2 separate regions of the Homo sapiens genome follow, and region 2 is linked to region 1. A link means that fine-mapping ties the variant in region 1 to the expression of a gene that starts in the linked region. Tissue or cell type: tibial artery. Region 1 holds a variant in brackets; the other region holds the start of a gene. All regions are shown on one strand. Distances are between the middles of the regions.

Region 1 (2,687 bases):
CCCATTTAAGCCAGGCTCCATGGGGTTGGGACCAGGCATCATAATTTTTCAAAAGTTCCCCAGGTGATTTTGACGTTCAGTGCAGGGTTGAGAAACATGGAATTAGTTGGTGGGTAGAAGCCTCCCCTACCATCAAGTGGGCTTTCCACTGGACTTTCCTGCTATTTTTATGAAACTAGTTGGAATCCTGGCCCAATAAATAGCACTTATTGCTGAGTGCTCACTGCATGCCAGGGACTTTGCATACCTCATCTCAACAAAATCACTATTGTTCCCTTTATATACAAAAAGAAATTGAGGCTCAAAGGGATTAAGAAGCAGCAGCGATGAGATTGAGATCCACCTCTCTCAGAAGTCAGACCGTGCCCTTTACATGACATATTAGGCTGGTTGGATGGGGTTCTGATTGTGCTAGACTGAGTCCGGGTCAGTGCCTCGGGGTATGTAGCTGGTTCACCCTGCAGGTAAAGAGTCATTTATCCTTCCCCAAGTCAAAGAGGTGTTAGGAAAATGAAGGTGGAAAGGTTTAATGTTTGATGTGATTCTTACGGCAAGTAAACTACTGTAATGAGTAGTTTCTGTTCTTTCTTCACTTTTTTTTTTTTTTTTGAGATGGAGTTTTGCTCTTGCTGCCCAGGCTGGAGTGCAGTGGGAAGATCTCAGCTCACCACAACCTCCGCCTCCCGGGTTCAAGCAATTCTCCTGCCTCAGGCTCCCAAGTAGCTGGGATTACAGGCACCTGCCACCACGCCTGGCTATTTTTTTTGTATTTTTAGTAGAGATGGGGTTTCACCATGTTGGGCAGGCTGGTCTTGAACTCCTGACCTCAGAGCCTCCTATATTGCTGGGGTTACAGGCATGAGCCACTGCACCCGGCCGTAATGAGTAGTTTCTATAAAAGAGACTAGTTTAAAGACAAAAGGAAATGCTAAAAGAAAGCCCTAACTATTGCCTTTATATATAGTTTATTTGTTAATTCATATGTATGTTTTGGTTATTTAATAAACATAAATGAAAATGTCTTCTCTGTTCCAGATGCTGCATGATATGCTGGAGATATGTAAAAGAATAGCTCAGTAATCCCCTAAATCTTAAAATGAATGCAGGCATTGTGTCAAAATAATAATAAGCAAACTCTCCACTAAAAATTATTTTTAATAGTTAAAAACAGGAATTGACTTTAAAAGTTTTAAGGCTCTCACCTCCTTAATAAGATGCTAAATTATAAAACATATGGCATTATCAGGAAATAAGAAGAAACAAAAAAATCATAGATATCCCAGTTGAATTCCTGACCCATTTAGAATGGTTTAGGAATTGTTAGTAGGCTGAAATCTCTCTTAATTTACCACAGACTTTATACATATTTTAAAACTCAGCTCGTGGAAAATATAACTATGGCCAATGATTTTAAGCTA[T/C]TTTTATATGATCTCAAGGGCATAGACATATTTATTACCTTTAATAAAGTAATTAAAGTCCCATTTTACTCATGCTTCTTAATGATTATGTACTGAGTTATTAGGGAGAAGGCTATAAACCTTTCTAAGGGCAAAGGCCAGGAGGGCAGAATAAACCAGTGGGGAGCCTTGGAGAATTGCACCCAATGTGCTCATTCTTAAATAGGAAAGAGGAAACAACCCATGTCAAGAAGGATGGAGTCCAGTCCTGTTGCCCTTGTAAGGAAGTGAAATTTGTTTAGCTTCTTCTTTAACCTTGCAGTGAGGCAACCTTTGGCTATGCTGACCACGTGCATGATACATTTGGACTAATGCTATTTTAGGTTGGTATTAGTGATGGGAACATTCACTTCTTGGCTCCTACTTGAAGACATGTCTCCCTTTAATAATATCCACCCTTTACCACACAGTTGCTTTGTGCCTTATACTGTTCTAAGTGCTTTCCTTATCCTTATTCATTTGATCCTCTCAGGAACCCTTGACGGCATTCCCACCTTATAAATAAGGAAACTGAGGAACACAGTGGTTAAGGAAGGTGGCCAAGTCTCCCAGGTAATGCATGGCAGAGCTGGGAGCCGAAAGCAGGTGTCTGGCTGCAGGACCCTCGCTCTTCACCACCACACTTTGTCACCTCTCATGAAGACGTTTGCTTCTCTTCTTCCTTCACCTCAAATTCGTAAGTTGAAAAAGCCACCAGGGATGTTTGGAACTCATGGAGGAAGGCAGTCACAAGGGGCCGGTTGGGTCTCGACAAATGGTGTCATTGCCCTAAGTAAGCTGAGTGTCTTCTGGGGACCGGGTTGCTGGGGTCTTAAGTGGCCTGTTGAGATGGACAGTGTGGGTTTGTTCAGCTTTATCAAAATATGGATAGTTCATCCTGCTTTGAGAGAGTAGTGAGCGAATCTGCACATTCTCCAGGCCAGTTATATGTTCTTCATATATTGATGAATGTATTGATTCATTCAATCATCATCCAGTTGATTGATGGAGCAATCGAACATTCAAGAGGAAGAAAATGAATGCTGGGAAAAGAAAATCCAGGTTATGCCCCTCAGCCTAGGAAAGATGTGGAGAAAAGTGATACCACAGAGATGAACTGGGACACTGTTTGTTGATGGAGCTGACACTATGTTTACCCGAGGAGATGTTGTATGTTCATCCAATGGAAGAACCTAGAAGTTCATCCAATGGACGAACCTAGAAGTATTGGAAGGTAAGGGGAAGATTGTT
Region 2 (2,687 bases), 420 kb before region 1:
CAGTTTCACAAGGTTAGGGATCTTTGCTTCGGTAGCTGATGTATCCTGAGTCCATAGAACAGCGCCTGCACACAGTAAGTGCCCAGCCCTGGTGATGATTTTAAAGACAAGAAAAGGCAATTATAAAAGTTAGTGACCGGCCCAAGGTTTAGATGAAGTAAATGGAACTTGTGTAAGGTAACTTGAAGAACTCTGCTTACTCATGTGAACACTACCCAAGGAAGGTTTAGTACCCCAGTACTGAGGAACTAAAGATGGTGGTGGTAAGGGAGTGGGGAGGGGCATCAGTGTTTGAGTTCAACCACCACACGTTTCTTCATTTTTAAGTTCTGTCTAGCCATTATACACACATTTGTCTGCACTATAACTGGACTTCTGCACTGTTGATAGTCCTAAGTTTCCTTCAAAGCTTGGCATCCGTGTGGCTTATTTGGTAGAGATTTGAACTTTCAAAGGGACGATACCCATCATTGGGGATTTCTCTCAAACCCTGGCGGTTTAAAAACCTACTTGGGCACTGCTGCTCAGCCAGCCCGAGGACCAGGGAGGCAAGCACAGAAATAGAAAGCATTTGTAAGTGTTAGTAGCTACTTTAAAGAGTAACTCTGTTCTGTTAGACCTACTAATAACAAATTAGGAGCTTGCATTTAGCACATCTTTTTTTAAAAAAAAAACACGTTCATTTTTCTCCTATGTTATAGTGTTTTACCTGAGAGGCTGAATATACTAAGACAATGGCCAAATCTAATATAAAAATAGACCTCCAATCCACAACCTGCAGCAACCTGCCCAGAAAACCAGTCAGTTACCTACAATAACCAACCCAGGGAGCCTGCCTGCTCTAAATCAGACTTGCACTCCTCTGCCTGCCTTTTTTCTTCTCATTCGGATGGTCTTCATCTATTCCCACATACCTGGGGTGGGGAGGAAATTAGCAAAAGCAAAACCCGGGTCCTGCACGCAGGCAGCTTAAGTACGGCCCTAGGGCTCGGGTCTTCCCTAGGCAAGAACCTCGAGGGCCGGACACGGGAGTGCAACCCAGGCACGCGCCTTCGGATGGCCAGAGTAAATGGTCGCGAGATTTTGCGGGGTAGCAAGGGGCCGGGTGCCCACGGCGGGAGAAACTACACTACTCTGGAGGCGAGCCTAGCCCTTCATCCCGTCGGGTTTCACAAACGAAGCCAGAGCTTCCTGGAGTGAGGGTGGAGCTTCCTGCCCGCGCCCTCTGCGCATGCGCCCGCCCGGCGCCCGCCCGGCGACCTGGAGTTGATGTCACGTCCGGCGGCGGCGGCAGCGGCAGCGGCAGCGGCGCTGAGTTTTGTCTCCCGGGCCGTCTGGGCGCGCGCGGGTGTCCCAGGTACCCCGCCGCCTCCCTCCTTCCCGCAGGACTCGTCCCTCCTGGCCCTGGGCCCCAACGGTGCCCGCCTGCCCGGCGGTCGGTCAGCGCACAGGGCACGGCTTCCTCTGCTTCTCCCGGACCACTTAGTCTCAACCCGGGTGTGTTTGCACTACTAGAGGTGAAGCATCCATCATAGAGAGAATGGGACCTGGGGTCTTGGACCAGGGTGTTTTTACTTTTCCCATCAGGTGGACGCGCATGGGCAGGAGATATTATTTGCAGCATTTCCTCCTAGAGGACGCCTTTGTCATTGTAGTGCAATCTAAGAATGGGTGTCCTTAGACAACAGGGACCGACCAAATCGTCATGCAGCTGTTTGGATGCTTTAAAAAAATAAATCCCCACACTCATTACGCGTTTTATGCTGCTGACTTTTTTATTTTTAAGACATCTGCTCCCGAAAGCTCAGAGCCCTTTAGCATTTCATTTTCTAAACGAATCCTAATCTTTCCTGTGACTGAATCGGTTCAGAGGATATCTTTTCAATAAGGAAGGAAGCCCTCCCCTGCTCACTGGGGACGTCGCAGGGTTTTTAAACCTAAAGATTTACTCTTTTGTGCACAGACGCTGGAAGCATTTGGGTGAGGCAGTGCAGTGCTTTTTGGGAAATGCATCAGATCTTTTCTGTTCTTGAAACGCCAAATCTAACTTGGTCTTTTTTTGGATGAATTACCGCCAGTATTATGAAGGTTACTGTGAAGGAACTTGAGACCACTGAACTTTTTGAGTTCTTGCGGTAGATTTTAAATCGTTTTTCCGTCTTCAACTCTGACTTTGGGATCACTGTCAATTGGCTACATTCTTTACCCTCTTCTAGTTATAATTTAATGCGATTTATTTGTTGTGGGTTTTGAATTTCGATAGCTACACTTAATAGAATTGTGTTTAAAAGAAAGATAAGTGAGGAACTCGTGGCTTTTTACTTTTATATAACTTAATTTTTCATTTTACAAAATGCCCATTTAAAAAAAAGTAGCTAAGCAAAAGAAAGGAAATTAAAATCATCTAGAATCCTACTATCTAAAGATAACCATTGCTAACATTTTGGAATAGAGTGTTAAGTTTTAAAATACATGAAATTTGTAAAAAACAAAAAATGAAATCATAGTGTATACTGTTTGAGTATAATTTGCTTGACGTATCTTGCCTGGCTTCCATTTCACTTATTTTTTTTCTTTGCGCATTTATAATAGCTACAGAATGTTCTATTGTGCTAGGCACTCATAGGTATAGTGGGAAACCTAGTGCATAAACCTTGTGCCATCTATTTTATCAGCTCAGAGAACTT

What was found. PIP is the estimated chance that this variant, and not a neighbour inherited with it, causes the effect.
Region 2: TBC1D7 starts here. The variant in region 1 is fine-mapped to the expression of TBC1D7 in tibial artery (GTEx, PIP above 0.99).

Annotation. Positions count from the first base shown.
Region 1 is chr6:12,902,457-12,905,143 of GRCh38, reverse strand. All of the region lies in intron 4 of PHACTR1 (phosphatase and actin regulator 1), which reads right to left. Among named protein-coding and RNA genes, the nearest start is that of PHACTR1, 190 kb to the right of the region's middle. The variant T/C (reference allele first, on the strand shown) is at 1,419.
Region 2 is chr6:13,327,126-13,329,812 of GRCh38, reverse strand. TBC1D7 (TBC1 domain family member 7) reads left to right here and starts at 1,276. Exons shown (of 8, transcript NM_016495.6): 1 at 1,276-1,517. TBC1D7-LOC100130357 (TBC1D7-LOC100130357 readthrough) reads left to right here and starts at 1,276. Exons shown (of 9, transcript NM_001318809.2): 1 at 1,276-1,357. It overlaps LOC124901261 (a long non-coding RNA gene), which reads right to left and starts at 1,198. Exons shown (of 2, transcript XR_007059457.1): 1 at 915-1,198; 2 at 1-88. RefSeq lists an enhancer at 931-1,437 and a silencer at 1,071-1,460.